Linked DNA regions of Homo sapiens. Each later gene encodes a partner of the first gene's protein in a complex. Each region holds a gene or a part of one and is shown on either strand. Other genes may lie near its edges.

What was found. Proteins that work in one complex are often made in the same cells at the same time.
Region 2: ZMAT2 (region 1) and SF3B3 share a complex: the UniProt entries of both Homo sapiens proteins name them as parts of the spliceosome B complex.

The regions. Positions count from the first base shown.
Region 1 is NC_000005.10:140,702,679-140,708,466, reverse strand, and holds the end of ZMAT2 (zinc finger matrin-type protein 2), read right to left. Parts: intron 4,550-5,788; coding exon 4,476-4,549; intron 4,042-4,475; coding exon 3,896-4,041; intron 2,855-3,895; coding exon 2,711-2,854; 3' UTR 1,781-2,710; downstream 1-1,780. UniProt on the Homo sapiens protein: Involved in pre-mRNA splicing as a component of the spliceosome.
Region 2 is NC_000016.10:70,560,755-70,565,870, reverse strand, and holds part of SF3B3 (splicing factor 3B subunit 3), read right to left. Parts: intron 4,242-5,116; coding exon 4,087-4,241; intron 1,996-4,086; coding exon 1,821-1,995; intron 807-1,820; coding exon 601-806; intron 504-600; coding exon 347-503; intron 1-346. UniProt on the Homo sapiens protein: Component of the 17S U2 SnRNP complex of the spliceosome, a large ribonucleoprotein complex that removes introns from transcribed pre-mRNAs.

The DNA of each region.
Region 1 (5,788 bases):
GCAACCAGAGGTAAGATCCCACTGTACCAAAAAGGGAAAGACATTCTTTGAAGCTAAATTGAACTAGATGGTTTCCTGAAGAATGAAGCCAGGGGTGGTGGCTCATGCCTGTAATCCTAGCACTTGGGGAGGCCGAGGAGGGCTATCACTTGAGGTCAGGAGTTCAAGACCAGCTGGCCAACACGGTGAAACGCCATCTCTTCTAAAAATACAAAAAAATTAGCTGGGGATAGTGGCGGCCACCTGTAATCCCAGCTATTCAGGACGCTGAGGCAGGAGAATCACTTGAACCTGGGAGGTGGAGGTTGCAGTGAGCTGAGATCGTGCCACCGTACTCTAACCTGAGTGACAGTGACACTCTCAAAAAAAAAAAAAAAAAAAAAAAAAAACTGAACCATGGAAGGAACTCACAAACCTCCAGCCTGCCTTGAAAGGGGTAACAAAATACCTAGTCAACAAGAAGACTGTCACCCAAGGGACCTGAAGTGCACATAATCCTGCCAAGGAAAGCACGCACCAATCTGCCCCCAGTTGCCCAGTACTTACTGTATCTAAAACTGAGCCAGGCCTTCAGCCCATAGGTGAAGATACATTCAGTGTTCCCAGTGGCAAGATTCAGCATCAGAAATTAGACAAAGGGCATGTCTTACAGTAAGGGAATTTTGTACAAAAGTCCAAAGGGAGGTGTATGGTGCTTTGTGGTTCAGATAATACAGAAAGTTGAGGAGCTTGATGGGGCAGAGAATGAAAACCAGCTATATGGTGGCAGCCTTGTTAACCCAAACAGATTCATTTACAGGTCCATTTTTTCAGGGTATAGAACCAGCAAGTTACAGGCTTCATCTGCTTGAAGTTAATGTGACTGTAGTTCTTCGTGTATGTATGGCTATTTTTTTCTTCTGCATCCCCTTGACTTGGCATAGTACTTGATCCAGTGGATATCAAAGTTTTGTGAGTTTCTGTTTTGAGTTTGCCAGTCTGTGCCATCTAATTCTCAAATCAGACCAAGGTAGGGAAGACAGCTAGCTTCTTCTTAGTGGTCTTCAATGTGGGTAGGGAGGGATTTTGCCTTTCTCAGAGGCATAGACATTTTTAGTTGTCACAATTGTGGAAGAGGGTGCTACTGGCATCTAGCAGGTAGAGTCCAGGGATGAAGTTAATCCTAAATCAAAATCAAAATAATAAACATCCTACAATGCCAGCATTGGTTTCTACAACAAATGATAATCTGGCCCAAAATCTCAACAGTGCCAAAATTAAGTAATTCTGTGTCTAGCAGACAGTAAGAAAAACACTAAGGGCCAGGTGCAGTGGCTCACGCCTGTAATCCCAGCACTTTGGGAGGCCGAGGCAGGTGGATCACCTGAGGTCAGGGGTTTGAGACCAGCCTAGCCAACATGGTGAAACCCCATCTCTACTAAAAATACAATATTAGCCACTTGAAGCCAGGAGGCGGAGGTTGCAGTGAGCCAAGATTACGCCACTGCACTCCAGACTGGGCGATAGAGCAAGACTGTCTCAAAAAAAAGAAAAAAAAAAAAGAAAAAACATTATGTTCAATCCTGAGCTCTGCTGTTCCAAAAACAAAAGATCAAAGGAGTCTGAAATGATAGGAATCGTTTTGGTTCAGACTTCTCTGGACATAGATCCCTTATCAGACGAAAACATAACTCATGCTAAAAAAAAACCTAGGCAAAAATAAGATTTAAAATGGAAGAATAAAATACTCTATATGGAAATCCTCAGCATGAGAAGGAAAAACAAATATTCACAGGGAAGATTATGGAATGTTCTCACCAAATGTAAAACAGGCCCAGTCAATGCCATTTATTATACATGTCAAACAGCTTCTAAGACCGACGGGCTCCCATAATAAGGTTTTGGGGATTTTTTGTTTTGTTTTTCATTTTCTTTTTTGCATCAAACAGGTTCTTCCAAAAGCCTGCTCACAAGGTAGACAAAAACATAAATCTTCAGGAAAATGAAACATGAGAAGCTGAAACAATCTACACCTGAATGTTAAAAAACTCATCAGACACAAACCACACCAAACACTCATCCCATTTAATTTCCTGTTACATGCTCTGAGGAAGCCAAGAACATCAGGCCCCAGGGCAGCAATGCTCTAGGATTCCAGCTCGGACCCCCTCTATATGACAGATTCATGCACACACATCCACACACCATAGAACCAGGCAGAAATACACATGCATGCACAGGTGGCTAGAGAACCATAGGGCAGGATGGGAAAAAGGGCTGATCAAGGATATGCAATCAACTGGAAACTGGGACCTAGAGAATGCTTCTGTTGCAGGATGAACATGAGTTAAAATTAAAACAAAGGCAGAACACAGGATAAAGGTGGGATGTTCAGACAAGAGGTGGGATAGATGAAGAGATAAAGATGCAGGGGGAGTTTTGGGAAAGCAGCCTCAGAAGGGGAGGTTTTTCTTTATTGGGAACTCAGGTGGGCAGGGTCCTGTGACTCCAGTGATACACTGAGGCAGAAGCAATATGCCACAGCATTACCTCTGCAATCTGTGCCCTCTCCCAAAGTAGAGGGAAACCATGAGCCCCCACCCTCTATCCCTCCCCATTGACACTCTTAAGAACTTTCCCATTACCCAAAAAGAAATGACCCCCTACTACACACACACACACGCAAAGTTAGGTCCAGCATAGGCCAAAGTCAGGCCAAGCACAGAAAGCCTCAGTAACTCTTCTTGGTGGAACCAAAGCCAGAGAAGCCCATCACAGCTGCCATCTCATCGTCCTCCTCAAATGTCAAGTCCTCCTCAGCCCTCCTTTTCTTCTCCTTCTGTTTCTCTTTCTTGTACGCTTTGGCCTTTTCCTCCTGGAGGGAAAAATCACTCAGAATCAGTTTAGACTCCTCAGCCAAATGTTGTTTGTAACAACAACTAACATTCTGGGGCATGCAGTACATGCCAGAAATTGCTCTGAGTACTTCATGTATATTAAGATCTCTAATATGGGGATATTGAGGCACAAAGAGGTTATATAACTTGCCCAAGATTCACAGCCAGTAAGTGGAAGAAACAGAATTTTGACCCAGTCAGCCTGATTTCATGGGTCTCTTTAGGACTAGGTACATTTAGTTAATTCCTCTTGCAGTTAAAAAAAAAAAAAAATTATGGGGGAGGCTATGCATGTTGTGGGGGACAGTGGGTATATGGGAAATCTTTATAACTCCCTCTCAATTTTGTTGCAAACCTAAACTCCTCTAAAAAAAGTTTAGTCTTTTAAAAAAATTAAATCAAAGAATACAGATGAGACAGTCCTCAACTTATGATGCTGACAAGATTTTTCAATTTTATAATGGTGAAAAACTGACATGCATTTGAAACTGTACTTCAAGTATCCATACAACCATTGTTTTTCACATTCAGTACAGTATTCAATAAATTAATGAGATGAATACTTTATTATAGAATAGGCTTTGTGTTAGATAATTTGGGTCAATTGTAGGCTAATGTGTTCTGAGCACATTAAGGTAGGCTAGGCTAAACTACAGTAGGTTAGGTGTATTATGTATTTTTGACTTATGATATTTTTAACTTGATGATAGGTTTATCAGTAGGTAACCCCATCAGAAGTTGAGAAATATCTGTATGACCAAAAAAAAAAAAAATTTTTTTTTAAATTACAAAAAAAAAAATAAGGCCCAGAGAGTCTAGGAGAAAAAAGTAGTTTCAGAGCCATTTCCTTCAGATCATGAGAATCCTAAACAAAGGCAACAAATGTTTCCGCTAATATACAGAACTCAGGAGATACAACTCTGGGGGTGGGAGTAGGAGTGGGATGAGGACAGGGTCTCCCATGATTCATAACATAAAACTCAAATCTGGGGGAGAGGGGAAGGATAGGAGACCCTTACCTCTTCTCTGAGCTCCTTCATCCTTTCCTCAAAATCATAATCCTTCTGCTTCTCTTCCATCTTCTTCTTGTTGACCTCAAAACGTTTCTTCACCTGATCCAGGGTGGAACGTTCCACACGCATAGACATGCCCAGGTTTCTCTGATCTGCATAGGGTCAACAGTGAAGAAGGCAAGTTCATTACAACATCCTCAGCCCCTCAAAAATTATTTTCCTGACTTCTCTGACATCTCATAAAACACACAGCAAAAATAATTATGGCTAAAAGAAACTCCCTTGGCCAGCTGGGTCCAGGAGCAGCACATGGTTTGGGTGCTGTTGAAAGCCTCATGGCCTCCAGAATGAGGCCTCTTACCTCACGGCCTCCAGAAATATTACATAATGAAGTAAAAGACGGCCTGTGCTGAAACAACTGGAGAGTTCTAATAGGGGCATCAAAAAAGAGCCCAGTAGAAACTACCCTTCTTACTCCAGCCATCTTTTGATGAGTAAAAAGAAGAAAAAAAAAGCTACCCTTCCATTCCACCCCACCTCCAAAACCCAATTCCAGCCCTAGTCACAAGCTACCTCCAAGCCTTACGTTTCTTTCCATTAATGTGATCCAGAAAGTTGATGGAGTCCTTCACCACACAGTCACAGACATTGCAGTAATATCTAACAGGAAGAAACAGCACCTGAGTCAAATATGGTTTTAAGGATCTTATCATTTTCAACCAAGAAACTCAAATTTTTAGGTAAACTTCTTTTTAGAAGTGTTAAGCCTTCATTTCTATAAAGCCTTAGCTTTCGAGAGAGTATAGCAGTCATCTTCCAAGACAGCCCCAGGATGAGCCCCACCCTCTTGGTATTCCTACTCTGTGTAGTCTCTTCCCAATTTGTACCAGAGTTGGTCTGTTTGGCCAATAGAATATGTCAAAAGTAGTATCTTCCAAAATTAGGTTATTTTAAAAACCATGCCTTCTGTCTTTGTTTGGGTTACTTGCTCTGGGGAAGCCAGTTGCTTTATTGTGAGCAGTCTTATAGAAAGGTCTATGGGGTGGCCGGGCATGGTGGCTCACGCCTGTAATCCCAGCACTTTGGGAGGCCGAGGCGGGCGGATCACCTGAGGTCGGGAGTTCGAGACTAGCCTGACCAACACGGAGAAACCCCGTCTCTACTAAAAATACAAAAAAATCAGGTGGTGCATGCCTGTAATCCCAGCTACTTGGGAGGCTGAGGCAGGAGAATCGCTTGAACCCAGGAGGCGAGGCTGTGGTGAGCCGAGATCATACCATTGCATTTCATCCTGGGCAAGAAGAGTGAAACTCTGTCTCAGAAAAAAAAAAAAAAAGAAAAGAAAAAAGAAAAAGAAAAAAGAAAGGTCTATGGGGCAAAGAACTTAGGCTTCCAAACCACAGGCATGTGAGAGAGCTTGGAAGCAGATCTTCCAGCCCCACTTAAGATTCATATGAATGCAGACCTACCTTGCCAACTCCTTGATTGCAGCTTCATGAAGACCCTGAGCCAGAACCACCTAGGTAAGCCACTCCCAGATTCCTTACCCAAAGAAACTGTGAGTGGTGTAGTTTATGCTGCTAAGCTTTAGGTTAATTTGTTAATTTACATAACAATAGATAACTAATACAGACAGGAATGGACAACAGTGGGTTTACTAAGCAGCTCAGAGAAGTGTCACTCATTGCTATCTGTGTTGCTCTCCTGCCAGAAAACCTAACTGGACAGAGAAGCAGTGGGGGGCAAAAGGGTGACAAGCTCTTGTAGGACCCTTCTTCCTATAGGTTATAGTCTTGGAAGAAGGTGTACAATCAGGCATCCATAACAACTACAGCCTTTGCAGCTAGTCTGGAACCTCAAACCCCTCTTCTTCACCATTAACAACTCCTAGGCTCTATT
Region 2 (5,116 bases), on another chromosome or scaffold:
TGCTGGGATTACAGGCATGAGCCACTGCGCCCAGCCAGAATATTAATTATTTAAACTGCTGAATTTTGGTCACAAATTGTTGCCTGCTTATTAAAACAGTAAGAAAGAGACCAATTGAATGTGCATCTATCTCCCCATTATGGATGGTTAGCACAAAGCCTTCCTGTGGAATGCACAGGCACAAGAACATCACTGCAGCTAGAAGGCCCCAGCATTTTCCATGTGCTGGTAAGAGAGAGATTGGAATCAAGGAGCTGGTCCCCAAAAGACCTGATCCATAACATAAGCAAAAGTGAGAGAATTCAATGGGACTTAAAATCTAGGAGAACCACTGGCAGATTCCTACCTTGTGCAAAAACTCCAGTTTTTCCCCATTGTTCACAAGCTTGTAAGTATAGACGAAGCCCCCTGCCACAGATCGGGGGTTTAGTATCAGGTCCTTGGCCACACCCACCAGCACATACCAGTCTTCACCAGTGTTGGAAAACCTGCACACAGCCACACTACACACAGAATAAGAAGCAAGAGTAAGGCCTTAGTCAAAACTCAGAGAGCTCCTGTTCCAGCCTGCCAAACCCTGGACTGTCCTGGGCTGCTTACCTAAAAGCTGCCTCATTCTGTTCCAGCTGGACAAGGTCCAGTGTGTTCCCTTGAATGGGATTCATCACTCGGATCACAGAGGCCCACTGCCCATTGCCAGCCTTGGGAGCTCCAAAGATGGATTCAGGGAGGTTTTCATTGAGGAATGCTGCTGCCATCTCTGCGGCCAGCTCCCGCTCATCCTCCCCTGCTGCTTCCACCATTTCCTAAACCCAAAAAAACGAGTAACTGAGTTGGCGTGCTCAGAGGTAGGGGCTGGCTGAGAAGAGGATAGGTAGCAAGAACACTCCAGGGGGTTCTCAATACATAAAGCAGCAAAGTCAGCCATCCCAGCCAGGATTTCCCGACATGACTATTAAAGGGAGAGGTGTACAGACTAGGGAAGACAGAAGATCAGAAAGGGAAATCCAGACATTGCTGGTTACATATTAGTAGAAAACACCAAAAATAACAATAGCTGTGACAAATATTGGACTAGTGGCTTGAGAAAAATGACAACGGAAACTCCACTTTTCTATCCAACCCATCTGATTTCCCTTACTAAAACTACTCTGTCTCCACTCTTTAAGGATGGATACAGTTCTACGTGGTTGTAGCTATTTGGTTTCTGCTAGGCAATGAGTTCTAGAAAGAGCTGGTGTTGTGGAGAACATGAAAGCTGTCTCTTTTGGGCCCAAATAAAGGAAATACAGTCTATTTTGGAAGCTCAAGGACGGGAGAATTCTGTTTCAGAGAGGGAACTTAATTGTGAATAAATGGAGGTCAGAGTATAGTCCTGGGTTACAAGAAAGGCTCTAAAATGAAGTACTTTGGGGCAAAGGCCTCTGCTTAAAAAAGCTGAAAAAAGCCTAGATCTTTAAAAACAAAGAATATACTAACAATTACAGGAGTTTAAACTTTTGATAGAGTCTCGTGTCCAGAGTGCCACTGGTATGCAGTGGCATGATCATGGCTCACTGCAGTCTTGAACTCCTGGGCTCAAGTGATCCTCCTGCCTCAGCCTCCCAAGTAGCTGGGACTACAGGAGTGCACCAACACACCAGGCTATCTTTTAAAATTTTTAATAGAGGTGCAGTTTTGCTATGTTGCCCAGGCTGGTCTCGAACTAGTGGCCTCAAGCAATCCTCCCACCTCAGCCTCCCAAAGTGCCGGGCAGTTTAAACTTTTCAACATAATTTCACACATCTTTTAATAGAACCCCTGAACGTTAGTCTCATTACCTCTGCCATCTGCTGCTTTCTCTGAGCTTTCGTGGCCTCAGTGTAGGCATTGTGGTCCGTTTCAATGATAATAAGGTTGTTACTCTCAGGGTGGATGACAAATTTCCTGGGTGTGTACTGCAGTGGGAAGGCTACTTGATTGAAGACAGCACCGAGCTTCTCTAATGCCAAAATCCTATGACAAAAAAGCAAGGCAGTTATTTAATACTCACTCGGACCCAGAAACTGGTGTTGAAATAGACTTTGAGCAGTCAGCAAACACGTCAATCCCTGGAGCTCTAACGTTGGCATTAGGCAACATTAAACAACAGCCTCCTACTCTAGAAAACTCTGCGATGCAGACACAGAGATCCAGGAAGGGCCTTCCCATTTGGCAACACCCTACCACAATTCACAGCAGTTCTAGTTCCTACCAATGAAACACAAACGATTGTCAAAAGTTTTTTTTTAATCACTCCAATGATAATAAAGAGCCCAATCCCAAATTTGTTGTGAAACACTGCAATTACCTAAACATATATGGTATTTGTAGTGACTGTGCTTCATAAAATAAAGTGGATACCTTTGTGAACAAAAATCACCTCAGTTCAGGAAAACTATGACAATGCAAGAGACAGCAAATAAGGGACCTACAAATTTCTGTCAAATGGGACAGAGATGTACACATAAGCCAAACTATGTGCAAAATGAGCAGAACCCAGGTACTCTGAAAAGTATAGTTACCCGATCTCTAATGATGGAGTTTTATTTGTAGTTTATTCTCTACATTAAAAAAGATAGGGGCTGCGTGTGGTGGCTCACGCCTGTAATCTCAGCACTTTGGGAGGCCAAAGCAGGCAGATCACCTAAGGCTAGGAGTTCAAGACAAGCCTGGGTAACATGGTGAAACACCAACTCTGTTGAAAATACCAAAAAAAAAGCCATGTATGGTGGCGCACGCCTGTAGTCCCAGCTACTTGGGAGGCTGAGGTGGGAGAATCTCTTGAGCCCAGGAGCTCAAGACCAGCCTGGGCACCAAGGTGAAATCCTGTCTCTATAAAATAGAACACAAAAATTAGCCAGGCATGATGGCATGCGCCTACAGTCCCACCAGGTACTTGGGAGGTTGAGGCAGAAATAGCTTGAGCCCAGGAAGTTGGGGCTGCAGTGAGCCATGATCACACCACTGCACTCCAACCTGTACAACAGAGTAAGACCTTGTCTCAAAAAAAAAACTTAAAAATAAAAATAATTAAATAAAAAAATAAACTGCCTGCCAAGAACTCTGCTTTTATGTCTCATAAGTCACCTTCCCTGATTTAGTTTTGGGGGGAAGTAAGTTCTGCTGCTAGGAAAGCCTAAAAATCTGTAGCGATTGTCTAAATCTATAGCAATTCAGGAGGTAGGGGCCACAGATGAGGCTACAACAAGGCTGGCTTAAAAGACAAGGGGAACACTGACAGGCAGGTATGTATGTGGGTGAAGCATTCTAGCACAGGTAGAGATTAAAAAAATATTAAGTGATGTAGAGCAGTGCAGGGAGATCAATTCTGCTGGAGCAGAAGATAAATACAAAGATGACGGAAAGAAAAAGGACAATGACCATGAAAAGACCCTGAAAGTTGTTGCAAAGAAATTTTGGGAGCTCATTTGATAAGCAATAGTGATTAATCTATCAAGAGGCCATAGTTTCATTATGAACAGCCAATAGTTATAACCAGGATGTGAACAACTTTGGTGGCTTAATTTTAAAAGCCCCCCAAAACCTGAGGAAGCCAAACTGACTGAATTATTTTAGGTTCTTTTCCATCTTGCAAAGAATATTACATACAGTGCTCAAACTTCACATCAATATTACCAGGAAGAACAGTTTTGTCAACTTGAAAAAGGTCTAAATAACTTATAGATAGGTTAACATTTAAGATTTAATACCGCAAATGACAAGACAGAGTAAGAAAGGTTATCAATGCAGTGATCCAATACTTGCTCTAAAACTAATCCAATGGCAATACCCTTTTGCTAGAAAACAAAAATCTGAAATCTCAGGAAGATTGGACTGTATTAAAGCTTGGCCTTGAAAATCTTAACAGAAGCTAAAACACCGAAACTTGGCTCTCAGGTACTAAAATGCTGAGCCAAATGAAGGTTTCAATTGCAACACACAAGCTTCATGGTGAAGTCGGCTCTCTGCCACCTCTTCACAGCCTCCTCCAACACTCTGGCAGAACCAGTCTGAGCCCTTGGCAGAAAGGCTTCCTGCTGAGCTTCAAACATGAGACTCACTCACCGTAGGGTGTTGGTGGAGATGGCCACAATGCCCTCGGGACACTGTTCCGAGGCAAAACCCGATGCAAATTCCAGTGTCTCGTAAGACAGTGGGGTGAGATGGAAGCGAGATTGGTAAGAATAGCTCAACCATGAGCGGCTTGACATGGCCAATACCTGAGGGGAAAAAAAAAACCCAGCTCCAATAAGGTTTGGGAAAAAATACAAATATGGTATAAGCTGACCAAAAGCCCTATCCCCAAATTTCAGTCTGCAGAGTATCCTAAGATATTCTAGAAATATAACAGGCTATCTTAAGAAAAAGAGGGCTAGAGAGAGGCACTATGGCTTAGCATATGTGAAAAGCATGGGCTACGAGCCATATGATCTAGACTCACCATTTCATCTCTCTAAGCCTGCTTCCACGTGTGTAAAATGAAAACAGTACCACAAGGCTGGACAGCTGCAAGAATTAAATGGAATGAAGGCCAGGTGCGGTGGCTCATGCCTGTAATCCCAGCACTTTGGGAGGCCACGGCAGGCGGATCACCTGAAGTCAGGAGTTCGAGGCCAACCTGGCCAACATAGTGAAACCTCATCTCTACTAAAAATACAAAAATTAGCTGGGCGTGGTGGCATGCGCCTGTAATCCCAGCTAATCGGGAGGCTGAGGAAAGACAATTGGTTGAACCCAGGAGGCGGAGGTTGCAGTGAGCCAAGCTTGCACCACTACATTCCAGCCTGGGCGACAGAGTGAGACTCCATCTCAAAAAAAAAAACAACAAAAAACAGAATTAAATGGAATCAATTAGCACAGTGCCCAGAAACACTAACATTCTTAACTACAAAGGACACAATGTTTCCCAGTCTCTTTCACATTAGGTAGTAAACGTGACACTGATCTAAGACTGGGATAAAACCTGAGAATTCTCATGGCTAGTGGTGTCCTAGAGGGGAGGTTTCCAGCCCTATTTGACCAGCCAGAGGGCTAAAGGGATCGATATCTCTACCCAGCTATAACCAAATCATGACATGGTGCGATGGAGCCCCAG